Regions from separate parts of the Homo sapiens genome. Here all the other regions are linked to region 1. Evidence: fine-mapped expression QTL. A gene starts in region 1. Each other region holds a variant in brackets. All regions are shown on one strand. Distances are from middle to middle.

Evidence for each region. PIP is the estimated chance that this variant, and not a neighbour inherited with it, causes the effect.
Region 2: its variant is fine-mapped to the expression of DPP7 in whole blood (TOPMed, PIP above 0.99).
Region 3: its variant is fine-mapped to the expression of DPP7 in whole blood (TOPMed, PIP 0.95).
Region 4: its variant is fine-mapped to the expression of DPP7 in whole blood (TOPMed, PIP 0.95).
Region 5: its variant is fine-mapped to the expression of DPP7 in whole blood (TOPMed, PIP above 0.99).
Region 6: its variant is fine-mapped to the expression of DPP7 in whole blood (TOPMed, PIP 0.98).

Annotation. Positions count from the first base shown.
Region 1 is chr9:137,112,221-137,117,477 of GRCh38, forward strand. It overlaps DPP7 (dipeptidyl peptidase 7), which reads right to left and starts at 2,513. Exons shown (of 13, transcript NM_013379.3): 1 at 2,427-2,513; 2 at 2,243-2,356; 3 at 2,023-2,162; 4 at 1,645-1,808; 5 at 1,141-1,276; 6 at 986-1,067; 7 at 733-899; 8 at 525-585; 9 at 1-10. The coding sequence starts at 2,493. LOC124902314 (a long non-coding RNA gene) reads left to right here and starts at 2,579. Exons shown (of 2, transcript XR_007061874.1): 1 at 2,579-4,824; 2 at 4,951-5,257. RefSeq lists silencers at 2,209-2,358, 2,389-2,738.
Region 2 is chr9:137,083,936-137,089,192 of GRCh38, forward strand. UAP1L1 (UDP-N-acetylglucosamine pyrophosphorylase 1 like 1) reads left to right here. Exons shown (of 9, transcript NM_207309.3): 9 at 1-603. It overlaps MAN1B1 (mannosidase alpha class 1B member 1), which reads left to right and starts at 3,050. Exons shown (of 13, transcript NM_016219.5): 1 at 3,050-3,283; 2 at 4,140-4,248; 3 at 4,934-5,070. The coding sequence starts at 3,065. It overlaps MAN1B1-DT (MAN1B1 divergent transcript), which reads right to left and starts at 2,882. Exons shown (of 1, transcript NR_027447.1): 1 at 1,011-2,882. RefSeq lists silencers at 2,404-2,633, 3,184-3,413 and an enhancer at 2,974-3,203. The variant C/A (reference allele first, on the strand shown) is at 2,309.
Region 3 is chr9:136,946,031-136,951,287 of GRCh38, forward strand. C8G (complement C8 gamma chain) reads left to right here. Exons shown (of 7, transcript NM_000606.3): 4 at 55-162; 5 at 435-536; 6 at 621-659; 7 at 738-945. The coding sequence ends at 751. It also overlaps a transcript of LCN12 not described here. Among named protein-coding and RNA genes, the nearest start is that of C8G, 3.4 kb to the left of the region's middle. RefSeq lists silencers at 3,640-3,739, 3,760-4,259. The variant C/T (reference allele first, on the strand shown) is at 1,522.
Region 4 is chr9:137,012,094-137,016,292 of GRCh38, forward strand. It overlaps ABCA2 (ATP binding cassette subfamily A member 2), which reads right to left. Exons shown (of 49, transcript NM_001606.5): 21 at 4,198-4,199; 22 at 3,869-4,081; 23 at 3,582-3,778; 24 at 3,321-3,503; 25 at 2,820-3,004; 26 at 2,597-2,717; 27 at 2,075-2,311; 28 at 1,739-1,945; 29 at 1,368-1,470; 30 at 909-1,225; 31 at 619-832; 32 at 392-497; 33 at 172-283; 34 at 9-69. Among named protein-coding and RNA genes, the nearest start is that of LINC02908, 13 kb to the right of the region's middle. The variant T/C (reference allele first, on the strand shown) is at 1,720.
Region 5 is chr9:137,071,655-137,076,911 of GRCh38, forward strand. No RefSeq gene overlaps it. Among named protein-coding and RNA genes, the nearest start is that of UAP1L1, 3.2 kb to the right of the region's middle. RefSeq lists enhancers at 1-44, 2,628-3,241, 2,952-3,011. The variant G/A (reference allele first, on the strand shown) is at 2,706.
Region 6 is chr9:136,274,634-136,279,890 of GRCh38, forward strand. It overlaps CCDC187 (coiled-coil domain containing 187), which reads right to left. Exons shown (of 26, transcript NM_001378188.1): 11 at 2,018-2,094; 12 at 1,561-1,668; 13 at 250-374; 14 at 25-116. Among named protein-coding and RNA genes, the nearest start is that of CCDC187, 27 kb to the right of the region's middle. The variant A/T (reference allele first, on the strand shown) is at 2,420.

The sequences.
Region 1 (5,257 bases):
TAGACCAGCCCTGGGGAGGAGAGGCGCTGGGGCCCAGCGGCCACACACAGACACACCGCGGGCTCCGGCCACCAACCTGTCCCCCCTCGGAATGGTCCTGCAGGGGATCTGGGGCTCTGGGATCTGTAGGTCCCAGTGAGGAAGGCCCTCCAGGCTACCTGCTTGGAGGTCGGCGGTGTCTGTGCTGCCAGCCCCGGGCCTGACTGTTGAGGGCCCCCCCGCTCTCCACGGGGCAGGGTGGGGCCTGCTGCCCTCTGTTGCCCTCCATGCTGGGGACCCCAGGGGCCCCTTGGGCAGCACCCACCAAGCTGGGCCTGGCTACAGCCAGTGCTGAGAGGGTCCCCAGGGACGGCCCCTGCCTCCCCCAGGGTTTCTGGGAAGGTCGTGCTGTCCACCCCACCACAGCCCTGGGGCAGGAGGCAAAGCCCCTGGCCGGGCTGCGGATCCTCGCCCCACCCGGCCCCAGGACCCAAGCCAAGCCTGGGGTCTCCACACTTGCCCATCTGGGGCCGGGGGAAGGGCACCTGCCAGTGCTCGCAGCCCCGTGATCCTCTGGGCCTCACTCAGCAGCCGATCACAGCCCACCTGGAGTGCAGGGGCAGCGGCGACTCAGCGGGGTCCCCTCCACCAGCTCCGCCTCCCTGGCTCCCAGGATGAGGGTCAGGCCGCTGACCACCAGCCTCGGGACACTCCAGCCGGCCTCTCCCTGCGCCCTGGGAGGCGGCGCCTCACCTTGACGGGGTTGGCAGGGAGGGGACCCAGGAAGTCAGTGGGGTAGGGGTAGTCCATCATGGCCAGCACGGTGAAGGCATTCCGGGCGAACATGAAGAGCTGGGTCAGGTCCTTCTCGTCTGACAGCGGCTGGCAGGTGCCGAACTCCCAGCGGACCGTGTCGTAGGCTGCGTGGAAGGGGCAGAGACTTGAAGTTTGGGCATAGCTGGCGCTGGGGCGGGTCAGGCAGTGGGAGGCGGTGGGAGGACCTCACCTCCCTGTAGGAACAAGTCCTTGATCTGTCGGAACGCTTCCCGCACACCCTGGGTGCATTTGGGACTCTGGCCCTCAAAGTCCTGGGGGAAAGAGACCGTGCTGACTGCAGCTGCTGTCCCTTAGGGGGCCTGGAGGACCCCAAGCCTCACTCACCGCCGTGACGTCCCGGAAGAACTGGTTGGAGTCGCCGAGGCCTGCCACAGCTAGAACGGGCGCGCTGGCCGCCAGCGCCCCCGCCACCAGGTGGGGATACTTCATCCTCAGGTAGGCACTGAGCATCCCCCCATAACTGGGTGAGGGACACAGGGTTAGGGCTGCTGCCCCCAACACCCCATTTCCTCTTTTCCTCCTCAGGGGCCCACAGGTGCCACAAGGAGGACGACACTTCTGAGACCCACAAATTCCAACCCTGGGCCAGGTGCGGGTGCAGCTCTCACTGGGAAAGGCCGCTAGTGTGGCCGCACATCCAAGCTGAGCAGGTGGCTGGGAGGACAGGTGGGAGGGCTTCCTGGGGGAGGCAACACTAAGCCTGGAACCACTGCCTGAGGCCTTACGAAAAGGCAGCGGTGGGAGTCAGAGGGGAGTGGGGAGAAGGGCTGGGGGCGCTGGGTCGGGGCAGGGGAGGGAGGGGGTGCGGAGGCCGGGGGAGGCGCCCACCTTCCACCGAAGGCGATGGCGGGGGCATCCTGGGCCCCGAGGTCGCGTCGTAGCGCGCGGAGCAGCTCTGCGAAGTCGGCCAGGGCCTGCTCCACCGTCAGCAGCTCCGTGTGCCCGCGCTGCGTGGACTGCGCACCGAACGGCAGCGACTTCCCGTAGTAGCGCTGGGGGAACGTGCCATTGAGCCCGGCCCCGCGACCCCGCCCGGCACCCGCGTGCCCCGCGACCCCCGCCCGCGACCCCGCCCGGCACCCGCGTGCCCCGCGACCCCCGCCCGCGACCCCGCCCGGCACCCGCGTGCCCCGCGACCCCCGCCCGCGACCCCGCCCGGCACCCACGTGCCCCGCGACCCCGCCCGCGACCCCGCCCGGCACCCACGTGCTCCGCGAAGACCAGTAGAGCCCCCCGCTCGGCCGCCAGCTCCGCGACGAAGGCCGAGTTGTTGGCGAAGGCCCACACGTCGCCCTCGTTCCCAGTGTAGAAGAAGATGGGCCCCTCGCCCCGGACCCAGAACCTGTCTGTGGGGAGGGCGGATGAGGCGAGGGTGCCGGGGGGCGGCGGGACGGCGGGGGCGGCCGGGCCGGGGCCGGGGTCTCACCCGACACCAGGAAGCGCTGAGGGAAGGTCTTGTTGCCGAAGCGCTCGAAGTTGAAGTGGTCCAGACGCTGCTGGAAGAAGCGCTCCTGGAAGCCGGGGTCCGGGGCCCTGCGGGCTGTGGGGGGACGCGAACCTCAGAGGCGGGGCCGGGACCGGGGAATGGGCCGGGGGGCGCCGCCACTCACCCCCCGCCTGGAGGCCGCGCAGCCCGAGCGCCAGCAGCAGGACCGGGGCCCAGGGAGCGGAGCCCATGTCGCCTTCCGCGGGCGCCCGTCACGTGGGCGGGGTCACGGGGCCGCCAGGGCGCGCTCCTCCCTCCAGGCCCCACGTGTTTCGGGCGCCCGCGGTCCCCACGGAGACCGTCGCTGCTTCAGCGCCGCGCCGGGGCTGTGCCCCCCAACACCCCGCGCCCCGCGGCCGCTGCCCAGGGGTCCTTCCCGGGCACGGCGCGGGGAAGCAGAGGGCCCCCGGGCCATCTCCGCGGCCTCCCGCCCCACTGGCTCGTCCTCCTACCGCGGCCCCATCCGGAGCTGCGCTAGGGCGAGTCCCTGCTGCGCCCGCCAAGCCTCCCCAGCACTTGCTCCTGGCAGGTGCCCCACTCCAAGGCAGGGCCGGGAGAGTGGGGGCCGTTCTGCTGCCCTAAGGGCGGGAGGGAGAGGGTCCCAAACAGAGTGCTGGCCCCCCGAAGAAAGCAACCCAGGGTTTGTCCAAGCGATAACGGGCTGGGCTTGGCGGGGCGGGGCCTCGCAGCGGGCAGGAGTGTGGGGTGCCCCTGGAGCGTCTGGGCAGGGCCGGGATGTGGCCGGGTAGCTCCCAAGAGCTGGGAATCGCCACCTGCCCTTCCGACTGGCACCCAGTGTGCCCACACAGCCCTGCAGGGACAAGGGGGGACCAGAGGCCTCTGCTGGGAGCTGGGGCCTCCTCCCTGGGGAGCACCCAGAGGATGGAAGAAGTCACCTTTCCCCAGCGTCCAGTTCAGGGAGTGGGTGAGGGGGCCGTAGTGGTGGGTGCCAGACTAGCTACGTGGAGTCCTGCTGGGGATGTACATGGGCCGCTAGCCAGGCCCAGAACAGGTGCAGGGGCAGCAGGGGCTCAGCTACAGAGAGTTACCCTGTCCTTCTCCCAAGACTACCCTCGGCCAGCATGACCCTGCCCTGCCCATCCTGTGTGGGGCTGAGCGGAGAAGACCGGCCACTTCCACAGCCCCTCACGCCATGGCCCTCCCGTGCCTCACACAGAGGCACCCCCCATGGTGGGTGACTGGTGGCTGGGGCCCTCAGCATGGTGGCAGTGACCATCACGTCACACTGCAACACGAGGTCATCCAGGGCCACACACCGTCCCCACCACGGCCCTCACATCTGGGCCCTGTCCCATCCCTACGCAGTTCCTGGGGCTGCCTGCCGGGGCCCCCGCAGGACGGGGGTGAGGACAAACAGCAGACCTCCTTGGATGTGGAGGTACCCCACGGCGTCCCCCACCCCACACCTCTGCTCCTTTGGCTCCCTCGGGTGCCTTAGGTGGCCAGAACTCCACCAGCAACCCTCACCCAGGACCGCAGCTCTGGAGACGCCAGCTAGGCCGAGAGCTGGCCAGCTCCCCAAGCACACCAGAGCCTGGAGACGCTCCAGGCTTGGCTGGGCCCACAGAGGGGCCAGAGCCTCAGGGAGGGCTCCAGGAGCAGGGTTTCCAAGGAAGCCACTTTCCCTCTTGTCCACGGCCCAGGCATTGATGCCCCTCTGGGCAGCAGCCAGGGCCTCCCAAGCCGGGAAGGGTGGGCATGGGGCTACCCAGCATGGCTCTGCCAGGGGTGAGGGTGGCCACAGTCCCCTGCCCACATCCCTGTGCCCACAGAAACATATGCTGTATGGAATCAAGGTTTAAGGCATCTAGGCCTGTGCTGGTAACCTGTAACCTTAGCCCCATCCCTGTGCCCACAGAAACATGTGCTGTATTGACTCAAGGTTTAGGGGATTTAGGGCTGTGCAGGATGTGCTTTGTTAACAATGTGTTTGCAGGCAGTATGCTTGGTAAAAGTCATCGCCATCCTCCATTCTCCATTAACCAGGGACACAGTGCACTGCGGAAAGCCGCAGGGACCTCTGCCCAAGAAAGCCTGGGTATTGTCCAGGTTTCCCCCCAGTGAGACGGCCTGAGATATGGCCTCGTGGGAAGGGAAAGACCTGATCGTCCCCCAGCCCGACACCCATAAAGGGTCTGTGCTGAGGAGGATTAGTGAAAGAGGGAGGCCTCTTTGCAGTTGAGATAAGAGGAAGGCTTCTGTCTCCGACATGCCCCTGGGAACGGAATGTCTCCGTGTAAAACCCGATCGTACATTAGTTCTATTCTGAGACAGGAGAAAACCGCCCTGTGGCTGGAGGCGAGATATGCTGGCGGCAATGCTGCTCTGTTACTCTGCTACACTGAGATGTTTGGGTGGAGAGAAGCATGAATCTGGCCTACGTGCACATCCGGGCACAGCACCTTCCCTTCAAGCTATTTGTGACACAGATGCCTTTGCTCACATTTTCTTGCTGACCTCTGCTCTGCTGCCGCATTCCTCATGCAAAGATAGTGAAAATGGTAATGAATAAATACTGAGGGAACTCAGAGACCGGGGCCGGTGCGGGTCCTCCGTATACTGAGCGCCGTCTCCTGGGCCCACTGCCTTCTCTATACTTTGTCTCTGTGTCTTATTTCTTTTCTCAGTCTCTCATCCCACCTGACGAGAAACACCCACAGGTGTGGAGGGGCTGGCCACCCCTTCACTGGCACAGCAACCTGACATGTGAAGGGGCCCAACTTCTGCAGGAGGACCCCAGGTCTGCATCGCCAGGGCCCTCGTCAGCCTGTGCAGGGCACAGTAGGTCACCCAAGGGGCAAGTGAGCCTAGGCTGCCCATGCCTGTGCAGACACCCCCGATCTCTCTCTGCCCATCCCCGGAGCAGCACAGACGGGCAGGTTGGCTGCAGAGCCACCAGCTGAGGGGGTGAGAGGTCCCTGGGCAGGGAATCCT
Region 2 (5,257 bases), 28 kb before region 1:
TCCAGATTTAGAGGCACTGGGAGGACAGTGGCTGAGTGGAGGCGCCCAGACCTGGGCAGGCAGCAGGCTCAGGCCCACACCTTGTGATTTTTGAAACCAAAGCCCAGAAGATGATGTTTACTTCTCTCTCCCTGGCTCTGCCCTTCTTACTGCAAACCATGCTGTGCCTTAGGGCCCTTCTCATAGCTGTTCCTCATGGCCATGACTGGAACAGGGATGCAACCTCTTTCTACACAAGCACAGTTAGTTGGGTGAAGTCTTTTTTTTTGTTTGTTTTAGACGGAGTTTCACTCTTGTTGCCCAGGCTGGAGTGAAGTGGCGTGACCTTGGCTCACTGCAACCTCCAGGCCAGCCTCAGCCTCCCTAGTAGCTGGGACTACAGGCACCCACTACCACGCCTGGCTAATTCTTTGTATTTTTAGTAGAGATGGGGTTTGACCGTGTTAGCCAGGATGGTCTCGATCTCCTGACCTCGTGATCCACCCACCTCGGCCTCCCAAAGTGCTGGGATTATAGGTGTGAGCCACCGCGCCGGGCCGGTTGCTGGCATCTTAATGTTCTGTAGGTGGAATATTTCCAATAAACACAAGGTGCCGTAATTGACTGCTACTCTGGCAAGTGCAGTTTTTGGGCAGTGCACGGGTGTTGGGAACAAGGATCAGGTGTTCACAGCTGTGTCCCAGGGCTGGAGCTCACTGGGGGCCCCCTTAGGGACAGGAGTTCACACATGAAGGCCAAGACTACTTGGGGTGCCAAGGAATCCCCCCGCGGTCCCATCCCACTCTTCACCAGGGTCTCAGGAGGGCCTGAGACAACCTGCGGTCAGGAACCTCGGGGCGCTCTCCAGGGCAGGCTTCTGCATGCTCAGCTCTGACAGCCTGGAGACTCGCTCTCCTGCACCTGCATCCTTGAGATGCCAAGGTTTCCCTGCTAACCACGTGAGGATGCTTGGGGTACTCCAGGGACTGACAAGAGTGAGTGGTGTCAACCTAAAGAGAAACTCAGGCTCTCCAGAATAAATGAATTTAATCAAGAATAACACATAATTGCAATGCAGAGTATGCAAGCCTCAGTGGGTCACAGGCATGTGGTGGGGGGGTGGGGTGGGGATTGAGGAAAGGGGGAATTTTTTTTTTTTGAGACTGGATCTCACTCTGTTGCCCAGGCTGGAGTGCAGTGGTGCAATCATGGCTCACTGCAGCCTCGACCTCCTGGGGCTTAGGTGGTCTTCCCACCTCAGCCTCCAGAGTAGCTGGGACCACAGGTGCACACCACCACACTGGACTCATTTTTTTATTTTTTGTAGAGACAGGGGTTTCACCATGTTGCCCAGGTTGGACTCCTGAGCTCAGGGGATCTGCCCACCTTGGCCTCCAAAAGTGCTGGGATTACTACAGGCATGAGTCACTGTGCCCCGCCCACGGGAAATTTCTTTTTTTTTTTTTTTTTTTTTTTTGAGACAGAGTCTTGCTCTGTTGCCCAGGCTGGAGTGCAGTGGTGCCATCTCGGCTCACTGCAACCTCCACCTCCTGGGTTCAAGGAATTCTCCTGCCTAAGCCTCCCGTGTAGCTGGGACTACAGGTGCCTGCCACCAACCATGCCCTGCTAATTTTTTTGTGTTTTTTGTAGAGACGGGTGTCTCACCATGTTGGCCAGGCTAGTCTTGAACTCCTGACCTCAAGTGATCCACCTGCCTCGGCCTCCCAAAGTCCTGGGATTACAGAAGCCACCGCGCCTGGCCCCAAGGGGAATCTTTTAAAAAAGAGAAGTTCCCATAAACTGCTTTGAAACCATAAAGACCAAAGGTTAGAAGGGTTTGCCGCAGGCGCTCCGTTGCTAATGTTTTTGTGAGGGCTTCTTCAGGGCCTCTTGTTAGAGTGTGACATAAACGACTTCATTTGGGTACCAGCAAGTGTCACAGGGGGCAGAGACCAGCAGAAACCTAAAGATGACCCCTAGAAGAGCAGGAGGCCAGGGGAACAGAGTTAGACGAGCCACGTGCTAAGCAGGACGTCGCTGCCGGGGGAGCTCTCCAGACACGCAGAAATGCCACAGTCAGGACCGTGGGACGCAGCGGATTCGCCCAAGGGCAGGAGCAGCCTGGCCAGGAGAGAATGAAGGAGGGGCCGGGCGTGAGGTTCGGCTGGGGAGAACCCAGGCAGGGAGGGCCTCGGGCGGCCACGGACGCCGCTTTGCCATTTTGGGCGTTTCTGGGGAGGACAACGCGTGCAGGAAGCGCAGTCATCTCAAGCTGACCTCCAAGGTTACCGAGTTCGAGGGCTGGGAGCCGGGTCTGAAAGCCCCGACC[C/A]GCCTATGGCGCGGGGACTGTGGGTCCAGCCGGCCGATTGGCCGCCTCGCTCGGCGCCGGTCCAGGCGCAGCGCTCGGGCCCCGGGGACCGTGAGATGCGGCGCAGCCAGCTTAGCTCGGGGTAGCAGCCACCCCAGCCCGGGTGCCGCCCGGCCTGGTCCGCGACTTCGGGAGGGTCCGGTCCTTCCCCCGGCCCCCACGCCTGGGTGAGGCCCTGGGCTTCTTGCCGGTGACCACGCGGCCAGGGTGGGCACCAGCCCAGGACGGCGCCCAAGGGCAGCCCAGCTCCATCCCCGCGCCGCGGGTTCCGGAACCGAGGCGCGGGACGCTGGGACTCTCTGCCAACATGGCGGCCCCGCCCGGGCGCCTCCCCGGGTCCCTAGTGTCTGCGTCTCCCGTGAGGGCGTGGGCAAAGTCGGTGCAGCCAGACGACAGGAGGCGAGAGAAGCCCAGCTCCAGGCCCATGAGGCGAACCACGTGGGAGCCCCAGACAGCGACCACGCCCCAGGCGAACCAAGGCCCGCCCCGTTGCTACAGCTACGCTCGTAGCACACCTGGGCAGGCGCTGCCGGACGCATGCGCAATGAACCTGAGGGCAGGGCGGAGTCGCAGCAGTTGTCTGACGCAGTCGCCGTAGGACGCAGCCCCGTACGCTGGAGCGCAGCGGAGACAGGCGCGGGCGCACTGGCCGCATAGAGACGCAGCGCACGCGCAGTCGCGTATCCGTGTGATGGGCGGGCTGTTGACGGCGCTGCGATGGCTGCCTGCGAGGGCAGGAGAAGCGGAGCTCTCGGTTCCTCTCAGTCGGACTTCCTGACGCCGCCAGTGGGCGGGGCCCCTTGGGCCGTCGCCACCACTGTAGTCATGTACCCACCGCCGCCGCCGCCGCCTCATCGGGACTTCATCTCGGTGACGCTGAGCTTTGGCGAGAACTATGACAACAGCAAGAGTTGGCGGCGGCGCTCGTGCTGGAGGGTGAGGGTCGCGCCGGGCTGACTGGGGCCCGGGGCTGCCGTGCCCGCCGCCCTCCCAGACTGCGGCTCCGAGCGGGACCTGGGCGGGCGGACTCGACTCCCCAGGCGCCGCCCTCTCCACCCCTTCCCCGCAAAAAGGGGCAAATGTGCGTTCCTGGTTGGGGCAGCCGTGGGCGGCTCGCCTGCAGCGGTCTCAGCGGCCCAAATTCTGCGGGGCGGTGGTGGGAAGAGGGCTCAGAGCCCCAGCAGGTTTTCTGGGCTTCGTTCGCTTTTCTGCAAGGTCCTGGCCCAGGCGCCTGCCCCTCTTGGAGCGGAAACCGGAGGTTCCCCGTGGTGTATGCTCCCCTCGGTACAGTGAGAAATGAGCCCCTCTTGATTGGCTCCTGGTCTGTTCGTGGTGGTCTCAGGCCGAAGGGCATTGATAACCACATGCGGACTGTGCATCGCCTGGGCGGTGCCTGGGCTACATCTGTGGGAGTCGCAGGAGTCTTTCTCCACTGTTGATGAAATGTGACAGAAATGTTTCTGCTTTTTTCTTATCCTCGTCTCATCTGCACCACTGTATTAACGACATCTGTAGTATTGTCCCAGCAATGTTCCTACTCCCTGCTGAGAGGGAACTTCTCCCCATTCAAAATAAATAGAGCTGGCCGGGCACGGTGGCTCATCCCGCGTTCCACCCACTACACTCCAGCCTAGGTGTAACAGAATGAGACCCTGTTTCCAAAAAAAAAAAGAAATAGAGCTGAACACTGGATCTTCCAGAAGAATTCCTTATTGTCCTCACAGTTTGTGACAGTTGAGACGTTCCGTGTGATATATTCAGTAAGAAATGTCATTCTCTGTACCTCCCTTAGAAATGGAAGCAACTGTCGAGATTGCAGCGGAATATGATTCTCTTCCTCCTTGCCTTTCTGCTTTTCTGTGGACTCCTCTTCTACATCAACTTGGCTGACCATTGGAAAGGTATCAGAAACACGTGTACTTGAAAACGATATCTGTGTTGAGGGTTGATTGGGCAGAAGCAATCTTGCATTCTACCTTAAACAGCTCCAGGAGGCATATATGGCAACGAATTGGCAAGAAATCAAGATAAAGAGAAAGGTAGAGCTGTATGTAACCACCTGGCTAGAACACAGATGTTAATTTGATGCTGTCTGACTACTTTCTAGGTCTCTGGTGTAAGTACTGATATGTCCAGCCTCCCTTATAGAGTAAGTCAGCTGGTGGGCTTGAACACTCAGCCTAAATAACCACACAAATTTCGTAGCACTCATTAGCGTGTGTTTGGAAAAGACCAGGCAGAGTTCTGGTGAGGATGTGGAGAATCTCTTCTCACTTGGTCTAAGATGCTTCTCTTTGGAGCAAAGCTAAAGGGCTCCTGCCCACCTGCCACATGCTGAACGTCCCTGAATGGAAAATAGGAAGGCAAAAGATGTGGGGTTCTGTGTTATGGACAAGGACACAAACTGCCAAGTGTTTTGAAAAAGATTTCATTCCCTTGGGACATTGTTGAATTCATTTCAGTGACTATCAGGTATCATAATGTTGATTTGTAATGGATAGTGCCTGCCAAGTGTTTTTATAAAGCAGTTTAAATCTCTTGTAGGCCTTGTGGCATATTTGAAATAAAATAGCTTCTGTTATTCAGCTCTGGCTTTCAGGCTAGAGGAAGAGCAGAAGATGAGGCCAGAAATTGCTGGGTTAAAACCAGCAAATCCACCCGTCTTACCAGCTCCTCAGAAGGCGGACACCGACCCTGAGAACTTACCTGAGATTTCGTCACAGGTACTTTGAGCAAATGGTGTGGGGTTATAACTGGGGTTCAATCCAGAGGCATTTCAAACCACTGAAGATTGAGAAGAATTATTTTCCTTTACCATTTATTACCACGTGTTTACCTCTCTCTCGTTTTGGACTGGTCGGATAATACTTGGGGAAAGAGAGGCGTAGTCTTTGCTTCATTCTTTTTGAA
Region 3 (5,257 bases), 170 kb before region 1:
GGGATGACGCAGCCACTGTGGCTCTCTGACATGGCTACTGTGGCTCTGCCCCAGCCCGAGACGCCCGAGGGGCTGTGCACGTGGTTGTCGCTGAGACCGACTACCAGAGTTTCGCTGTCCTGTACCTGGAGCGGGCGGGGCAGCTGTCAGTGAAGCTCTACGGTATGTGGGGGCCAGCCTCTGTGACCAGGCAGGCGCTCAAGCTCTGCACACTCACTGGGCCACCCCGAGGGGCTGGGTGAGCCCATGGGGACACACTTCCTTTCTCCCATCCTGATCCTCCTGCTAAGCAGGGGCCCAGGGAGTAGTGACAGACAGGCCTGGTGTGGGAGCAGGGAGAGGGCCCCGAGGGGGCAGGGGACACACAGACCCCGTTTCCAGAGCCCTCCACGCCGCCTGGTGCCAGGACCCCAGGAACCCTGTCTGCCCTGCAGCCCGCTCGCTCCCTGTGAGCGACTCGGTCCTGAGTGGGTTTGAGCAGCGGGTCCAGGAGGCCCACCTGACTGAGGACCAGATCTTCTACTTCCCCAAGTACGGTGAGTGTCCCCAGCAGGTCCCCAGCTCAGCCACCCCCACTCTCTGGGCTGATGTCCAGCCTGACCCCTGCCTTGGGCCCCCAGGCTTCTGCGAGGCTGCAGACCAGTTCCACGTCCTGGACGGTGAGTGCACAGCGGGGCAAGCATGGCGGCGTGGTGAGGGGGGCCACTGCCACCGGCTGAGTCTCGTCTCTGCTGCAGAAGTGAGGAGGTGAGGCCGGCACACAGCTCCAGTGCTGAGAAGTCAGTGCCCCGAGAGACGACCCCACCAGTGGGGTGCCCGCTGCCTGTCCTCCGTGAAACCAGCCTCAGATCAGGGCCCTGCCACCCAGGGCAGGGGATCTTCTGCCGGCTGCCCCAGAGGACAGTGGGTGGAGTGGTACCTACTTATTAAATGTCTCAGACCCCTCTCTGACTCTTCTGTCCACTCTGGACCGGCGCCAGTACCACCAAGGCCCTCTCTGCCCCCACCCCGCCTCTTTAAAAGCCCGGCGCTCCCTGTTGGCTGGAGTCCACGCAGTGGGCACTGGGCCGATTTCAGCGGCTCTTGGGATTTGGGAGGGGAGATCCTCTCTGGCATATGCCCATCTTGTGCCCTGCTGGGACCTGGGGGCGTCCAGCCTCACTCCAAGGCTGCTCTTGCCTGGGCCATTGTCCTGCAGCCCCCGGGCTGCTCTTCCGCCCCCGTGGGAGGCCAGCTGTCTCCCGTCACTGCCCATTTTGGCCTCTTCCGAGCCGAGCTGGCACCAGCTGGCCCGTGTTGGTGGCAGCAGTTGGTGCTGTCCACCCACAGCCACTGCACTCTCTGCACACCTCATCCACTCCCACGTCCCCCGTGAAACCAGGAAGCAGAAGAGAATGTGGGGGTGGGCCAGCTCTGCCCTCGGGGCAGCCCCTGGGCTAGGGCCGGAGAATCAGGAACCCGGCATGGCTTGACCATGCTGGGCCTGGACCTGGCCGCTAAGCTGCTCCTCTCAGGCCCTGC[C/T]TGCGGCCACTGGCATTTGTTTGATAAGCATTTCTGAAGGCCCACTGTGTGCTGGGCCCTGGGACCACCAGGTGGGCTGGTCCCTCCCCCTAGGAACTTACAAGTCCAGGGATCAGCCACCAATCGGCCACAGTGGGCAGGGATGGGAGGAGAAGGCACCTTGGAGTTGGTCCCAAAGCACACGGCCTGGGTGGGGGCAGGGAGGAGCCAGCAGCTGCTTCAGGGGGGTCCCCATCCCACGGGCGGGGCTCCCCCTGCCGTGCCCACCTGTTCACTAAGCTGCTAGACCCCAGGAGGGCAGGCAAGTCAGGTGGTGGGAAGGGGAGGCAGGGGCCCTGACTGCCGGGACCTGGGAAGGAGAAGGGCCCAGGAGGTCGTACCCTTGCATCGCCTTCCCCCACTCCAGCTCCATGTCCCAGAGACCCATGAGATAGCAGGGCGCAGCAGAAGGGCTCAGGGTTCAGAGCTGGCAACGCCGGGAAGACTCTAGGCCTGAGCCCCAGGAAAGCCTCCTCCATGCCTGGCCCCACATCCCCCAAACAGAAAGTGAGGGTCTCATCTGGGGGCAGGAGGAGTCGGGTAGCTGGCCACGGTCACAAGCTTCAGGGAGGGCTGAATGTCCGAGGGGTGGCGCCAGAGACCCACCCGATGACCTTGGGTGCTGTGGTTGGTGGCAGAGTGGCCCAGCCTGACCCTCCACGCCTCTGACTGCAGGGCTGGGTGGGTTCCCGCACTGAGTGAAGTGCGTGGCCACTTGGCTGTGTGCTCTGGGACCAGAGGATGTGCAGCGCAAGGATTACAAGGCATTTCATTTTCACAGAAGCATTGAATGAGCTCTAGTTAAATTTCAAACACTACATAAAATCACGATAGCTCTGTGTGAATCATTGTTCTTTAAAATAGTTTGCATAATTTGGCTGGGCGTGGTGGCTTACGCCTATAATCCCAGCACTTTGGGAGGCTGAGGCGGGTGGATCACTTGAGGCCAGGAGTTCAAGACCAGCCTGTCCAACATGGTGAAACCTTGTCTCTACTAAAAATACAAAAATTAGCTGGTCATGGTGGCAGGCGCCTGTAATCCCAGCTACTCCAGAGGCTGAGGCAGGAGAATTGCTTGAACCCAGGAGGCAGAGGTTGTGGTGACCCGGGATCATGCCACTGCCTCCAGTCTGGGCGACAGTGAGACTCTGTCTCAAAAAAAAAAAAAAAAAAAAAATCTATGGAAATGGCTGGGCGCTGTGGCTCACGCCTGTAATTCTAGCACTTTGGGAGGCTGAGGCGGGCAGATCACTTGAGGTCAGGAGTTTGAAACCAGCCTGGCCAACATGGTGAAACCCCGTCTCTACTAAAAATACAAAAAAAATTAGCCAGGCGTGGTGGTGGGCGCCTGTAATCCTAGCTACCCAGGAGGCTCAGGCAGGAGAATCGCTTGAATCCAGGGGACAGAGGTTGCCGTGAGCCGAGATCGCGCCATTGCACTCCAGCCCGGGTGACAGAGCGAGACTCTGTCTCAATTTATTTAAAAAACAACAACAAACAACAACAAAACTATGCAAACTGGCTGGGCACAGTGGCTCACACCTTTAATCTCAGCACTTTGAGAGGCTGAGGCAGGAGGATCGCTTGAGGCCAGGAGTTCAAGATCTGACTGGGTGGGCAACATAGTGAGACCTCATCTCTATTTAAAAAAAAAGTTTTTTCATCTATAGAAACTAACATTTAATTGTTAGCAGTCTTGCCCAAGACCTGCGGGGTCAGGAGTCCAGGACTGTCCTGGGTGCCCCCGCCTTGCCTGGACGTGAGAGTGCTGTGTGGGGCCCCGGGAGCCCCTGGTCCCACAGGCAGGGCCGACAGGCAGGTGCCGTGCCCGTCCTCCCTGCCCACGCAGGTGCTCAGAGGGACAGGTGGGCCAGGACTCCTCCATGTGGGGACGAGGCACCCTCCTCCCCAGCCACGCCCCAACCACCCCTGGCCCCCCACCCCACCCCCAAGGGGCCTCCCAGCGCCCAGGACCGTGTCTGGGAAAAGGTCTTTGCCCGGAGAGTGGGAAGAGAGAGGGGAGGGTGAGCAGAGGACAGGCCGGGAGTTTTCCGGGAACGGAGGAAGAGCAGTGGAGGGTAAGTCTGTCCTTGTTGCTGTGGGGAGGCCGAGATGAAGGCGATGGGTTGGGGGTGGGGGTGCCGGGGAGCGAAGCAGAGGGAAGAGAGGACCTGATGGGAGGGGTCAATGGGAGAGGCCCCAGGGACCGGTCCCCACGGTGGGCTGGGGGTCCAGGGTGCTGAGTGGAAGCGGCGGTTTCCCTCCCGCCTCTCAAGGACGCCTTGCAGAAGGCGCGGCTGCTCCTCCCCGTGGCACGCAAGCTCCCGGGCACCGCCTCCCGCCTCGGCCTCCCAAAGCGCTGGGCTCACTGGCGTGTGCTGCCGCGCCCGGCCCGCCCACCCCAGGCGGTATGGAAGGCCGAGGTCAGAGCCAGGACTCCCCCGGGAGCCCCGCAGGTGCCTCAAGGCCCGCGTCCTGCACGGCCCGTTCCAGCGCCGCCGGCCCAGCCAGGCAAAGGCACCTGCAGGGCCCTGATTGGGCGGCGGAGGTCACGTGCCCACCCTCCACCAATCACGTTAGACGGGAGGAGCAGCACCTGCGTCTGCCCCGCGGTGGGGGGAGGAGGCGCGCCGAACCCATTGTCGTGTCCGGGAGGCTCCTGCAGGGGACGTGGGGGGCACAGAGGTTAACGGCAGCAGCCAGTGGCTACCTGGAGGCACACACAGACCCCCCAGGGCGGCAGGAGTGGGTCTGGGGGAGGGAGCATGGGGCCTGAGGCGCTGCTTGGAGCCGAGGGACCCTCCTCTGTGTCGAGGACTCGGCCCACCCGACCTCTGCTGCTCAGTCTCTGTGGGTCTCGGGCTGGCCAGGGAAGGCCCGGTTTTCCTCCCGCAGGGCCCTGCATGGGCGGGGTCCGTAGCGGGGACTGTCCTGTACATGGGCTGTGTGCTGTGATCCCAAATCTCCCCAGTGCCCTGCGATAAGACGGGCTCCGGGAGGGGTGCCTGCTGCGCTGAGAGCGGGACCCTGGGGCTGCGGACAGGCGCTCCTAGGCTGGCTGGGGCCAGGGGGATGGTGGAGAGTCGAAGGCGCCTTGGGGAGTTCAGGGGAATGAACAGATTATTTCCAACTTTTCCTTCCCTGGGCCAGCCTCCTGAAACGCTAGCGTTGTGCTGGTGAGACAAGGCACAGCAAGCTGCCCTTCTACGTGGGCAGTGAGGCCTGGGACAGAGCCCAGCCCTGGAGCCCTGAAGTCCTGGGGGCTGGGCTCTTCGAGTGGCCAGGCTGGGGCTGCCACCCAGGGCAGGCTGCCGAGGCCCAGGGCACCTCCTGGGATGAGCCTAAGTCCCTTGTAAGCAGGGCTGGATGAGGGGAGGAGGTGGCCAGGACAGGGAATCTGGGGTGGGAGGGGGCAGCCAGGACAGGGACCTGGGGGGCCTGGACAGAGGCTCACAGGCCAGGCACACGGTGAGTGGGAGGCACCTGGCTCACCCTTGGTGACCCCTAACATGGAGTCCAGCACCCAGAGGCTTCAGCTACCTGTGAGGATGGGAGGAGAGGTCAGGAAGGGGACTCCACTCCCTAGCCCCATCGTCCAAGGGGTGCCAGGGCAGCTAGAAGCCCCAAGCCTGCCATTGCCCTCCCTGCCAGCCCTCTGTTTACATTTTATTTTTATATTTTTAGAGATGAGATCTCA
Region 4 (4,199 bases), 100 kb before region 1:
ACACTTACAGGTAATCCAGGGAGAGGCTGGCGCTGGTCTTATTCATGGGGTGGTTGGTGACGGTGATGCCTGCACACGGCGGGGCGGGGGCGGCAGCTTCAGGCCCCAGCTCCTCCCCGCCCCGGCCCCAGCTCCTCCCCGCCCCGCCCCGCCCTGCCTATGTCAGCTCACCGTAAGCCGCCGGGTTGCCCTTGCTCTTGGGCAGGTTGGCACGCAGGATGGCGTTGTTGAGGCTGTTGAGGTAGGTGGGCATGCTGTGATAGCCCTTGTTGTTGTAGAAAACCTGCAGAAGGAAGAGGACACAGAAAGGCCCCAGGACCTCAGACCTGGGTCCCTGCAGACCTCGGGCGGCGCTACACACAGCGGGGCCCAGGCCCGCAGCCTCGCTCACCTGGGCAGCCCTGCGCACCGCGATCTTCCGCACCATGGGTGGGGCCCTGGTGCCAAATGAGGCTGGGATGGACTTCAGGACGTTTCCAAAGGTGATGGCCCCATACCTGGGCAGGCAGGTGGGAGGGGCGGTGAGGCTAGGCAGGCAGTGAGGCTAGAGGGGCAGGAGTTGAGACTAGGTGGCTGGTGGCCGGCCACCCTCACCCACAGCCTCCCCACCCAGCTCACCGGTGCAGTCGGAAGCGGTCGGAGGTGAAGAGCAGGTACTCAGAGACATTGTGGCCGGTGATGTCGGTCAGGATGTCGCCTGTGACCACCCGCATCTGGGGCGGGTGCCCGCCCACACTGCTGGGGCAGGAGAAGCCGGTGCCCTGCGCAGAGCAGGTGCAGCGGACGGGCTCCCGTACCAGGCGCGGCAGGGAGGGTGCCGACGTCCACATTTCTGTGGGCACAGCATGGTGCGGTGAGAAGGACCCCTCACTGCCCCTGCCCCCCCAGCAGGCCCCCTGAACCACTACCTGGCCCAGCGGTGGGCGGCAGGGAGACGTTCCAGGCCTGCAGGTCCTCATCCGGGGACGCTGGCGAGTCAGATGGGGCGGGCGAGGGTGGGGGTGGCACGAAATTGGACAGTGGCAGCCCCTGTGTGAAGGACTCCAGACACATGCTGTCGAAGAACCGAGCCGCCAGCAGGCGCGACTCCCCGCTGCTCAGGTTCAACGTGGGCCCCAGCGAGCCGTTGGCGGGAGACTTGAGCACGCAGGTGGCACCCACCCCCGACGGCAGCCGGAACGTGCTCACGAGCTGCTGGGGGCTGGCGTCGGGCGATAGCCGCAGCCTGCGGGCACCGACAGTGTGAGGTGGGGCTGCCAGTCTCCGCCCCTCGCCAGCCCCGCCCCCTCGCCCGCCTGGCCCACCAAGGCTGTCCCCGCCCCTTCACTCGCCCCACCCACCAAGGCTGCCCCCGCTGGAGGCCTCACCGGTACTCGCGGCGCTCCTCGTTGGCGTAGGGGATGAAATTGCCACGGGGCTGGGTGTAGTTGTGGTACTGGGAAGGTGACAGGACCAGCGGGGGCAGATCACCTGGCAGGGCGAGCAGGGAGGCCTGAGCAGGTTCTGCCCTCTGGCCAGCGGCCCCCAAGCCTCGGTCCCCTTCCCCCAACCCCAAGGGATCCACGCCTGGGGTCTGGGACCCGAGGAGACAGGACTCCCGGATGAACCCCGGTGCGTGCCCAGCCTCAGGTGTGGGGTGAGGCCCAGAGTCAGGAAGCTCAGGAGTGGGCATCATCAGGGCTCCCAGCGGGCGGTGGGGGGAGGCAAGCCCAGCACCCC[T/C]GTCCAGCCGGTGGCCTACCAATCTCCGGGACGGACAGGGCCACGGTCATGGCCACGCAGACGAAGAAGGCTGGCAGCAAGATCTGGGAGAAGAGTGCCTTGGAGTTGCGGCGGGCGCAGTGGAAGCGTTTGACCAGCAGCCCGTGGAACTGGCGCACCTTCAGCCACCCGCCGTCCAGCTTGCGGCTGCCCTGGCCGACCCTCGACAGGGCCTCTGCCTCCACCTCTGTGCAGAGAGGTAGAGGCTGAGCAGGTGGTTGCACGCTACCCTCTCCCTACTGGCTGCCCTCATGCCGCTCCCCCGCAACCCTGCTCCCCCTCCCTTGCTGTCCCAGCCTCACCCTGCCACCCCCACCTTGCAGGCTGACATTGTCTGGGTCCTGTGGGTTATCAAAGAGGGGGCGGTAGTCGCCATAGACGTCGGTGTAGCCAGCTCCCTCGTCGCCACGGGCAGAGCCCACAGATGACGCCGACTGCAGCGATGCCTGCGACTGGGTCAGCTCCGAGCACCGGGCCAGATTGCCAGCGTGACCCTCCCCAGACGCCGGGCCCTCCGCCCCAGGGAGCACATCCTTCCTGGACTCCTTCACATCTGCCGCAGTGGAAGGGCCGAGGGGACACTCAGGGCTACTGGCCCCTAGGCCTGCCCAGGACCCCCATCCCCGGTCTTGACCCCAGTTCCCAGGCTCATACACCTGTCCGGGACCTCTGGCCACCAGGACCACCCACCTAGGACCGCAGGCTAACCCCGGGGCGTCCCCTGGCTTCCACCCAGGACCAGGGTGGCGCCCCCAGACACCAGGCAGGAGTGACAGCGCAGGCCCGAGCTGGGGCCTTGTGGGTGGGGTGGGCTGAGCAAGTGGTCCAGGCCCCTCACCGGCCTCACTGTTCTCCAGCGACTGATCCTCCTCCGACACCTTGAGGAACACTTCCTCCAGGGTCGTGTCCATCAGCCCGAAGCTGCTGAGGTGCAGTGCATCCAGGCTGCGCTCCAGGTGCTGCAGGGGCGGTGGAGGGGGAGGCTGCGGCAGGGACGCCCAGGCAGGAGTGCGCCCACCTCCACCACCTGCAACTGCCCCCCGACCCGTGCGCCCTCACACCTGGAAGAGGCGCTCGAAAGCCCCCTTCTTGGCGGCCTCGCTGGGCAGGATGTAGGAGAGCTCCGTGCTTGTGTCTGAGACCAGCAGGCAGGAGGCCACATGCTTGCGGATGAACTGGGACACCTGGAGCTCGGAGCAGCTGCTCAGCGGGGCCCGACCTGGGGGGCTGGATGCCAGCCCTGGCTCTGTGGGGGACGTGGGAGCAGGAAGGAATTCACTCAGGGGCTGGGAGGAGGGACCCCCAATGGGAACCCAACTGGGTCAAGATATGGGCATTGGAGAGGAAGAACCAGGCCCCAGCAGGTATCCTGGGCCCAGGGGGTGACGCTGAGGACCCAGCCTCTCCAAGATACGGGCGTTGCAGAGGGCGGGCCAGGCCCCAGCAGGCATCCTGGGCCCAGCGGGTGACGGTGAGGGCCCAGCCTCTCCATTGTGGATTCTCAGGTGGGGGTCCCGGGGAGAAGGTGGCCCGAAGCCAGCTCAGGCAGCTTCAACACAGACCTTGGGGGCCCCCCGGCTCGGCGGGCCGCTTGACCAGCGTGAGGCGGTACCCGTCGCCATAGGTGCCCTTGAGGAAGAGCGGGGAGCCGCAGCACTTGAGCTTCCCATGGGAGATGATGGCAATGCGGTCCCCAAGCAGGTCAGCCTCATCCATGTGGTGGGTGGACAGAAGGATGGTGCGGCCTAGGACAAGGCCAGACCCAGGGTCAGGGGGCAGGGGAGGCGCCGCCCGCACCCCTGCCCACACGGCACCCCACTCACCTGGCTTGTACTTCAGGATGAGGTCCCAGATGGCGCGGCGCGCGTAGGGGTCCACGCCCGCCGTGGGCTCGTCCAGGATGATGGCGCGAGAGCCGCCCACGAAGGCGATGGCCACGGACAGCTTGCGCTTCATGCCACCCGACAATGTCTGCACCAGTGAGTGCCGTTTGTTGGAGAGCTCCAGGTCCTCGATCATCCTGGGACAGGGAGGTGGGGCATGGGGCTGCTGCTATGCAGAGCCCCAGGGCCTCCGCCCACCTGCCCCGCCCCCCGCCCAGCCCACCCACTTGTCCATCTCTCTGCGGATCTCCTCCTGAGCCATGCTCTTGAGCCGTGAGTAGAACCAGAGGTGTTCCTCCACCGTGAGCCGGTCAAAGAGCACATTGTGCTGCGGGCACATGCCCAGGTTCTTGCGGATCTCATCCATCTCCGTGCGGATGTCGTGCCCGTAGATGGTGGCGGAACCCGACGTTGGAGGGAACAGGCCGGTCAGGATGGACCTGGGTAGGTGGGCGGGGTCATGACCCCACGCCCTCTGCAGGGGCCCCACCCTGCCCTGACTAGGACTCCTGCTCTGGTCAGCAGATGCCCACCGCCCTGCCCCTCCGACACTCACAT
Region 5 (5,257 bases), 41 kb before region 1:
CACTCACTCTAAGTGGGACTCCTTCATCGTAGGGAATGCTGGAAGGACATAAGAAGCTCTGAGCCTGGAGCAGCCCATCAGAGCTTGGTCCTGTAAGCCAGCTTCCCCTTTAATGGCTGGTCTGCTCAAAAACCCAGCACGAGGCCGAGGCGGGAGGATCACTTGAGCTGGGGAGTTCAAGACCAGCCTGGGCAACATAAGGCAACCCTATTTCTACAAAAAGTTTAAAAAATTAGCCAGGCGTGGTGGTGCATGCCTGTGGTCCCAGGTATTTGGGAGGCTGAGGTGGGAGGATCCCTTGAACCCAAGAGGTTGAGGCTGCAGTGAGCTGTGATTGAGCCACTGCTCTCCATCCTGGGTGACAGAGCGAGATCTTGTCTCAAAAACAAAACAAAACAAAACAAACCAGCACAACACGCAAGCCCCCGCCCCCCCATCCCCACACCTACCCTGCTTCCAGCACACCCCTCACCGCCAGTGCCAGGCCTGGGGTCCCTGCACTCCCTCACTTCCAGGCCCCTGTGCCTGGTGGCTCTTCTACCAGGAAGGCCCTTCCCCTCTGCTCCAGGCTGACCGCACTACATCCTTCAGAACTCTGCTCTGGCCCCAGTCCCCTTCCCCCTGAAGCCTAGTTAGATAAAACACAGGGGACAGCTTTCTCCTGGCCCAGGGGGCCCTGGCTATTTGCAAGCAGGACAGGGCTCCTTCTAGGCCTGGCATTGGCCTGGCCCACAGTGGGTGCTCTGTGAATGGCACTGGGGAGCCGTATCCAGTGAAATCATATGGGAAACACCATCCTTGAGTGGGCACCAAGCCAGGCTGAGGCCTAAGGGATGGGGAAGGGCTGGGAACAGCTCAGTGGTATGGCAGGGGAGGCCAGTGTGGATGTGGAGTCGGTGGCCAGCAGTGAGCAAGGCTGCTGCAGCTCAGGACAGCGTGGCCAGCAGTGTCCAGGCCAGGCCAGCCATGGCCCCGCATGGAACTGAACCCACCGTGCAGATGAAACAAGGGCTTTTCATACCATCCAGAGCCTTGGGGGAGGCGGCCCCAGCTGGCCCTTGGTCTGTGGGCTTCTCTGTGGCCCCTGGCTGGGTATTGGAGGAAGGTATGAAAAAGACTGGAGGCCGGGCACGGTGGCTCACGCCTGTAATCCCAGCACTTTGGGAGGCCAAGGCGGGCGGATCACCTGAGGTCAGGAGTTCGAGACCAGCCTGACCAACATGGAGAAATCCCGTCTCTACTAAAAATACGAAATTAGCCGGGCATGGTGGCCCATGCCTGTAATCCCAGCTACTCGGGAGGCTGAGGCAGGAGAATAGCTTGAACCCCGGAGGTGGAGGTTGCGGTGAGCCAAGATCGCGCCATTGCACTCTAGCCTGGTCAAGAAGAGCAAAACTCCATCTCAAAAAAAAAAAAAAAAAAAGGCTGGGCACGGTGGCTCATGCCTGTAATCCCAGCACTTTGGGAGGCCAAGGCGGGAGGATCACGAGGTCTGGAGATCGAGACCATCCTGGCTAACATGGTGAAACCCCGTCTCTACTAAAAACACACACACACACAAAAAATGAGCCGGGCGTGGTGGCGGGCGTCTGTAGTCCCATCTATTCGGGAGGCTGAGGCAGGAGAATGGCGTGAATCCAGGAGGCGGAGCTTGCAGTGAGCCGAGATGGCACCACTGCACTCCAGCCTGGGCGACAGAGCGAGACTCCGTCTCAAAAAAAAAAAAAAAGACTGGAGGCTGTGCCTGGCTTTGGGCGTGGAGCTAAGATGTGGTCCTGTGTCCTTCCTGTCCTGAGCTCTGACCACTTCCTCCTTCACTCCACTTTCCGGCTGGCCTGATAGTTTCCCAATCCTTCAGGTTTTAGTGCTGTGTCACCCCTGGGGGTCCCATGCTGTCCCTGTACTTTTGGAGGCCCCATCTTAGCTGTAATTGTGTTCTCACTGTGTAAGCCTGGACCACTCTGGGCAGAGGTGGCAGGAAGACCGGCCCCTCTGTCCCCTGATGTATCCCCAGCAGTGGGCACCAAGTGAAGAACTGGCAACAGCCACCCAGCCCCTGAGCCTCCCAGGGCTCCCCGTCTGCACTCCTGGCCTCTGAGCCTTAGGGCCTTGCTCCCCTGGGCCTCTTGTGAAGACAACTGCCTGGCCACAAGGTGGTCCAGGAGGTTGCTGCCCACCTCAGCCTTGCCAGCACTCCCACCCATCCGTAGGCTCTGTCGGTCTGGGCAGGGTCGCTCCTCCCCTTCTGGTGCCGCAAGTGCCTCTGGCTGTACAAACCTTGATTTTCCAAATCTTCTATTACAGCCCAACCCACACCTTGAGGTGGGATTTGGAATCACCCTGACCTACAGGGCCAACAGTTCATGTCCTGACACCTGCCTCCAAGAGACATGTGCCTCCTCTGCTGCCCAGCCCTGCAGGGGTGATAAGGGTTCCCATGGACTCTGGCCTGGGGCGGGAAGCCTGCTCTGCTCACCGGATTCCGCGAGCCTCCCCTCCAACTCCAACGTTCACCTAAACGATGTTCAACCACCACAAACCACTGGAGCAGAACAGGCCATTCATTAATTCATTCATGCAGCAGGTACTCCCTGAACATTTGCTGTTGCCCAGTCACGGTGTGGGCTGGGGTTCAACACTCGTTTGTTCAATCAACAAACATTGATTGAGTGCCTACTGTGTGCTGCATTTACCTGAGGTGATGG[G/A]GGCAGACCACTGGCCTAAACAATGCCCTGCCTGGGCTGGGCACGGTGGCTCATGCCTGTAATCCCAACACTTTGGGAGGCCGAGGCGGGCAAATCATGGGGTCAGGAGTTCAAGACCAGCCTGGCCAACCATCGCTACTAAAAATACAAAAAATTAGCTGTGTGTGGTGGCGGGCGCCTGTAATCCCAGCTACTCAGGAGGCTGAGGCAGGAGAATCACTTGAACCCGGGAGGCGGAGGTTACAGTGAGCCGAGATTGCACCACTGCACTCCAGCCTGGGCGACAGAATGAGACACGGTCTCAAAACAAAAAACAAAACAAAACAAAAACAGCAACTCCCCGCCTTTGTGGGGTTCGCTTCTCACAGGGGAGTCAGGTAGCCAAGAATGCAGAAAGGCAGCCTGGCACGGAGGATGGGAAGGTGCTCACCGAGTGGGCGTGGCCTGGGGAGCTGAGGCCTGACCAAATGCGTCCCCAGCCACACGTTTCTCTGGGGACAAGCGGTCCAGGAGGGAGGAACAGGAAGTGCAGAGACCCTGAGGCAGGCCCGAAAAGCAACTCCATGCAGGTCCAGAAGAGTGCATGTGGGCCTTGCCCCAGGGGTGAAGCCCCCTCCCAAACTCAGTGAGGGCATGTGTGTGGAGGTGGGGGCAGAACCCAACTGCAAGGAAACACAACTGCCTGAGGGGTCCACGGGGCAGCATGAGGGAGATGTTAGTTTTCATTTTGGGTCCTAGATCACTGTCAGAGGTGTGTGAACCAGAGCAACTCCATCTTGAATGGGAGCTGGGTAAAATAAGGCTGGGGCCTACTGAGCTGCATTTCTGGATGGTTAAAGGATTCCAAGTCAGGATGACACAGGAGGTCGGCACAAGATACAGGTCACAAAGACCTTGCTGATAAAAGAGGTTCCGATAAAGAAGCCGGCCAAAACCCACCAAAACCAAGATGGCAACGACAGTGACCTCTGGTTGTCCTTGCCGCTACACTCCCACCAGCACCATGACGGTTTACAGATGCCACTGCAACGTCAGGAAGTTCCCCTATATGGTCTACAAAGGGGAGGGATGAATTATCCACTCCTTGTTTAGCATGTCATCCAAAAAAACATAACAATGGGCAACCAGCAGCCCTCAGGGCTGCTCTGTCTGTAGAGAAACCATTCTTTATTCCTTTACTTTCCTGATAACTTGCTTTTGCTTTACTGTATGGGCTTGCCCTGAATTCTTTCTTGCGCAAGATCCAAGAACCCTCTCTTGAGGTCTGGAACCTCTTTCCTGTAACAGCATGATTTGTTTTTCTTTTTCGGTTTGTTTGTTTGTTTTTTGAGACAGAGCTTCGCCCTTGTTGCCCAGGCTGGAGTGCAATGGCGCGATCTTGGCTCATGGCAACCTCCGCCTCCCAGGTTCAAGCGATTCTCCTGCCTCAGCCTCTGGAGTAGCTGGGATTATAAGCATGCAACACCATGCTTATATATTTATATTTATATTTAATATTTGTATCTATTTTTAGTAGAGACAGGGTTTCTCCATGTTAGTCAGGCTGGTCTCAAACCCCAGACCTCAGGTGATCCGCCCGCCTTGGCCTCCCAAAGTGCTGGGATTACAGAAGTGAGCCACTGCGCCCGGTTTTTTTTTTTTTTTTTTTTTTGAGACAGAGTTTCGCTCTGTCACCCAGGCTGGAGTGCAGTGGTGCGATCTTGGCTCACTGTAACCTCCGCCTCCCGGGTTCAAGTGATTCTCGTGCCTCATCCTCCCAAGTAGCTGGGACTACAGGTACACGCCACCACACCTGGCTGATTTTTGTATTTTTAGTGGAGACGGGGTTTCACCATGTTGCCCAAGCTGGTCTTGAACTCCTGGGCTCAAGCGATCATCCTGTCTCGGTATCCCAAGGTGTTAGGATTACAGGCATGAGCCACTGCACCTGGCCACCATTTGAATTCTTTTATGCAGTCACATATATTACTTTTAGACTTACTATATAGTTTCTAGGAGAAAGTTTTGTGCCCAACTGGCAGAAGCTACCCTTTCATATTTTTCACAAGCAAACTATTTTATTTTTATTTTTATTGAGAAGTCTCACTCTGTCTCCCAGGCTGGAGTGCAGCAGCAGGATCTCGGCTCACTGAAACCTCCGCCTCCTGAGTTCAAGGCCTCCTGCCTCAGCCTCCCGAGTAGCTGGGACTACAGGCGCCTGCCACCACACCCGGCTAATTTTTCTATTTTTATTAGAGACGGGGTTTCACCATGTTGGCCAGGCTGGTCTCGAATTCCTGACCCCACTTAGGACTCCCAAAGTGCTGGGATTACAGGCTTGAGCCACCGCGCCGACCACAAGCAAGATATTTTAAAACCTGATAGTAAAATAACAATGTGGGCGAGGGGCTGCAGAGCGCTCTGGTCACCAGGCAATGGGAAGCAGGAAGGGTGTGCGGGAGGGAGCCCCAAGCCGCGGGATGGCATCCCGGAACCTGGTCTGGTTCCAGCCTCCCAACAGCTCAGCCGTAGCCCAGGCCTCTTCAATGCACTCTGGCCGGTTGTCTCTGCAC
Region 6 (5,257 bases), 840 kb before region 1:
GTGGGGTTTTGAAGACACCGTCACCTGCAGAGGCTGGCTTGGCCACCACATTCTCTGGCCTGTCCTCGGGACCCTGGGAGGACGTGGCAGCATCTGTGTCCAGAGGCGGGTGTGACCTACAGGTGAGGACATGCCCGGGAGACTTGGCACCAGCGCCCGCAGTGCCCACCCCACTGCCTGTGCCCAGAGACTCTGCAACCTGCATTTCCACATTGGGAGGGGGTGGCCAGCCCCAGCCCCCGACCTCACCTGGGTGTGGCCATCCCTGTGCTCTGAGAGGCTGTGGTCGGCTCTCGGTCCTTGCACATCGGAGGCTGCTCCAGCTTCAACGCCTCCTCTGGCCTGGCCTGGGTCGAGTGTCTCTCCATCAGCTGCTGTGAGGAGTGGGAGGTGTGTTGCGGAGAATGCAGGAGGCGGCTCCACAATTGTGGGCATTGGGTCGGGGCGGTCAGGCCAAGCCCAGTCCCAAGGAGGAGCCTGAAGCTGGGCAAGTCTCCAACCTCAGGGGCCTCTCTGTCCATCCTGCAAGTGGGGCCGACAGCCCCCTTCTGCCTCCCAGAGAGGCCACTGCAAGGAAGCAGGGGTGGCCAGTGCCCCGCCAGGGCTGGAGGGTGTGGGAGCTGGGGGACCAGCTGCATGGAGACGGGTGGGAAGGAAACCCCAGCTCCGGTCCCGGCTGGGGGTGCTGGGAGGGCAGGCACAGGAGGGGAGCAAATCCTGTGATGCGGGGAGCAGGGAGGGAACAGGCAGGGACACAGGGCAGGGTGTCTCTGTTGCTGTCGGTCTGAGGCTGCCTGTATGTGTACTCCCACACACACACACGTGCACACACACCCACACGCGTGCACACACCCACACGTGTGCACGCACATACTTCCATCACTCTCCTGGAGATGCCCCCCAACATGTACCGTGGATGTACTTCCCACCATCGACCCCTGAACCAAACACAGAAGAAAGGTCCACCTCCCAGAAGGTTTATCCCCTCCAGCCAGGTCACAGCCGTCAGCCACCCGATCAATCCCCTGCCAGGGTCACCGCTCCTCGGACTGGGTGACATTGTCCCCTCATGGGGCAGGTGCTGAGCCACCCCGGGCAGTGGGAGCTGCCTTTCGGAGGGGACACTATTGGTGCAGGACGGCCCGGCAGAGGTGGCTCAGGAGACACTAAGCTCCTTCCTGTCTGGCAAGAGACCTGCCGGGGGTGTAAGCACCACATGCATTTTGGGTTGCATGCTCCCATGGAGAGCCCAGGGCTCAGGGGCCTACCAAGCCTGGGACACGGACAGGTGGGAGGCTCCAATGGCCATCTGTGACCCAGCTCTGGTTCCCGCTGGGGCACCCCCCAGTGCCAGCGCCCCCAGGACACATGTGGCTGAAACCTCCTGTTTCTGCATAGAGACTTTGCTTTAAAGGGAGCTCTAGCCTCTGGCTTGCCTCCTCTTGACGAGGGGCACCCACTGTTCCTATGGAAGTCTCCGCATTCCTTCCCAGTGTGACTGACCTTCCCACCCAACCTCCTGCAGAGACAGGGGCTCCCCCTGTGGCAAGCGGCTGCTACCTCCAGCCGCCTCCTGAAGAGCAGCCCATCCAGGGTCTGCTGTGTCTCCCGGGCCTCCAGCTCTGCCCGCTGCCGCAGGAGGGCCAACGCCTGCTTCTGCTGGTCCAGCTGCAGGGAGAGCCCACAGCTCACGGTTCCTGCTGCCCCCAGCCAGGGAGGGTGGGCCCCTTCCTCGGGGGTCACCCCAAGGGATCCTATGTCTGGGCAGGGCCCCTCCCTCCAGCCCCCCGACTTTCTCTCCCTGCCAGGGGCTTCCCCATCAGCCCGGGAAGGCCAGGCGCCCTCTGTCTGTTCCTCCCACCTGCATGCTCCCCTCCCTCTCACCCGGCCACTCTGTTTCTAAATTCTATAGTCTGCACATTAGTGCCACTTCTGCTTGGCCTCTGGGAGACAGAGGCTGCTCCCGGCTCACCACCTAGCAGAAAGGGGACCCAGCTGTCATCGGCCTTGGGCAAACCTTCAGAGAATCCAGAAAGCTGGAGGTCTTCTGTTGGGTGTTGGGAAGGCATCTCACACATGGGTCCTCCTGCTGACCTGTGGAACCATGGAGGGGGATAGCTGAGTGGCCCAGGCCGCTCTCCCGGCCTCCCCTCGCCGCTGCCTTAGTGCACCATGGCATGACAGGTTAATACAGCCTCTCCACCTGCAGGGAAACTGAGGCACAGAGGCCAGGAGTGCAGGTGGCCTGAGTCCTGAGCCCAGCTGGCATCAACTCCATCAACAAGAGCCCCTGCCCTGCATGTCGAGGAAGGGCTGGGAGGGCTGCAGCCCCACGGAAGGACACGGAGACCCACTGCATCTCCTCGTCCCTGCTAAGGCTGGCTCTGCCTGACCCCGGCCAGGACCAACTCCAGGATGG[A/T]TGGCAGGAGTCTGTGGGGAGGGCGGAGGCCCAGGACATGGGCTTTGCCCCCAGACAGACCGGGTCTGTCATGCATTTGCCATGTGACCTTGAACAAATCACTTGTCAGTCAGAGCCCAGTGGGGACACAGAGGTTCCTCCTTCCCTTGTGTGAGGGTCCAAGGAGATAGTTTGGTACAGGCTGGCTGTGCACTCAGCAGGTAGAAGCTGCTGCTGATGGTGTGGACAGGGTGGGTGGGTGATGACGGGGTGGGTGTGAACGGGGTGGGTGGGTGCTGATGGGGTGGGTGGGTGCTGACAGAGTGGGTGGGTGCTGAGGGGGTAAGTGGATACAGACAGGGCAGGTGGGTGCTCACAGGGTGGGTGGGTGCTGAGGGGGTGAGTGGGTGCAGATGGGGTGGGCGGGTGCTGACAGGGTGGGTGGGTGCTGAGGGGGTGGGCAGGTGCTGAGGGGGTGGGTGGGTGCTCATAGGGTGGGTGGGTGCTGATGTAAGCACCTGGCACAAGTCCAGGGCTCTCCTTGGAATTTCTGGGATTGGTCCAGAGCTTGGGTATGAAAACCTCAGCCTCTTCCTTGGATAGTGAAGTCCCCAGCAGCAGCGGAGGGGGCTTCCCTTTCTCCTTGGTGGCCCCAAGTCCCAGCTCTGACTCTGAATGCTGTTGGAGCTCCTGGCCCCACAGAGGCTGCCACCAGGAGGTGCTGCATGCAATGGGGTCTGCAGATGGTGGGGCCCTCGTGATGGCTTGTGGATGAGCGCCTTGGTCACTGTTGGCTGGTGTATGGATGGAGCCAAGACCAGGATCCCCACTCCGACTGTCCCAGAACCGGCAGCTCCTCCAGTGGACTGCTCGCCTTCCCGGAACGGAGCAGCTCAGCCATGAACCACAGCTAAGCCGGTTCCTGGGCGTTTCCACAGCAGCAGAGGACACCCCAAAGCACCGAGACAGGGTGAGCAGCAGGGGCGCCTGGCCACCTGGCGTGCACTGAGCATTCGGGGTCACCCCCGTGGCCCCCATCTAACTGGTGATGATGGGAAGTGAAGACACTCTTACACTTCTTTGTTTGGGTTCAGGTGTCTGTTCTGAGCTGAAATTCCTTTTTTGCAAAGGGAAGAAACCATCTTTTGCTTTTGTTTCATGGCCCTGAGAGAGGCTGAAGCCAGAGAAGGGTCCCCAGCCCCACCAAATGCCCCTCTGGCTCCTGGGAGCCCCACAGTCCTGCGGCCCCCACAGATCTCCCAGCTGTGGCCTGAGGAGGGGGAGTCCTGGTCATCACCGGCCATGTCAGCACCCAACAGATCAGAGGACATGGGGGGACATGAGCTGTTTGTTCCTGAGCTCTGAGCTGTGACCCCGGAGAAAGCGAGCCGTCCCCGAGCTGGGCACGGCCCTGGCTGGACAGAGACTGCAGGAGTCACCCCAGTGAGTGCCCTGACTCCTCTAGCAATGGGTGAGGAGCCCCAAAAGTCTAGCCCCACGTGCCACCCCAAAGTCCCTGGTAGCTGTGAGGATGCAATGGGACAGTTTGACAGATCTTGGCACATGGCAGCTGCGGTCACTGCTGGTAGTGATGATGTTAACTAGCTACGTTCTCAGTCATGTGGCTTGGGTCCTGGGGAGTCACAGCCTCAAACCAGAATGAGGCTGACAGGACCCTTACCCTCAGTGGGGGCTGTGGAGTTTGAGAGCCAGGGCCCTGCTGTCCAACATGGCGGCTGGCAGCCACACCCACCGTTTACATTTAAACTTAACAGAAAATAAAACATAAAATGCCACTCTTCAGTCACACTGGCCACATTTCATGGCTTGACAGCCACATGTGGCTGGTGGCTACCATATTGTACAACTCAGAATCCGGAACATTTCCCTCATTGCAGAAGGTTCTGGTGGACAGTGTGGTGTACCTGTTTAAGTCTAGAAAGTTCCACTGGACAGAGCTAGTCTACATGTTTAAGTCTAGAAGCTTCCATTGGACAGTTCTGGTCTAGGTGTTTAAATCTAGAAGGTTCCATGGACAACTCTGGTCTGGGTGTTTAAGTCTAGAAGGTTCCATTGACAGAGCTAGTCTACATGTTTAAATCTAGAAGCTTCCATTGGACAGCTCTGGTCTAGGTGTTTAAATCTAGAAGGTTCCATTGGACAGCTCTGGTCTGGGTGTTTAAGTCTAGAAGGTTCCATTGGACAGCTCTGGTCTGGGTGTTTAAGTCTGGGTTTCACTGGACAGCTCTGCTCTGGGTGTTTAAGTCTAGAAGGTTCCATTGGACAGCTCTGGTGGAAGTGTTTATGTCTAGAAGATTCTCTCGGACAGTGCTGCCTCCAGTCATAAAAACTAGACCCAACAGACTCCTGTTGCCTGTCCCCCTGGGGCTACTGCACATTCCGCCCATAGGATGGTGAATGAGGTATAGGGGTAAAAACTGCCCCTTCAGGCTGCCCCTTCCAAGGAGGAGGCAGAGCCTGACTCTGACCTCACCCCCTTGGGAGATCCTGGCCAAGACGTGGCTGTCCTGCAGCCATTGGAACTGTCTGTGACTCACAGCAGCCAGCCCCTGCCCATCCAGCCTTCAGGAAGGGCGGTCAGCAAATCCAGCAGTGGGAGAACGGAGCCCCATCCCAGCCCATACCCGGGCACTCTGGGAAGCTTGCTGCACCTCCCTGGGCTGCACTTTCTGGGAAGAGAAAAGGTGCTGCTATGGTTTGAACATTTGTCCCTCCTCATGTTGAAATACAAGGCAATTCAGCCATGAGGCGGCAATTCAGCCACAAGGCGATTCAGCCATGAGGGTTCCACCCTTGTGAATGGATGAGTGCCATCATTGTGGGTGCAGGTTCACTATA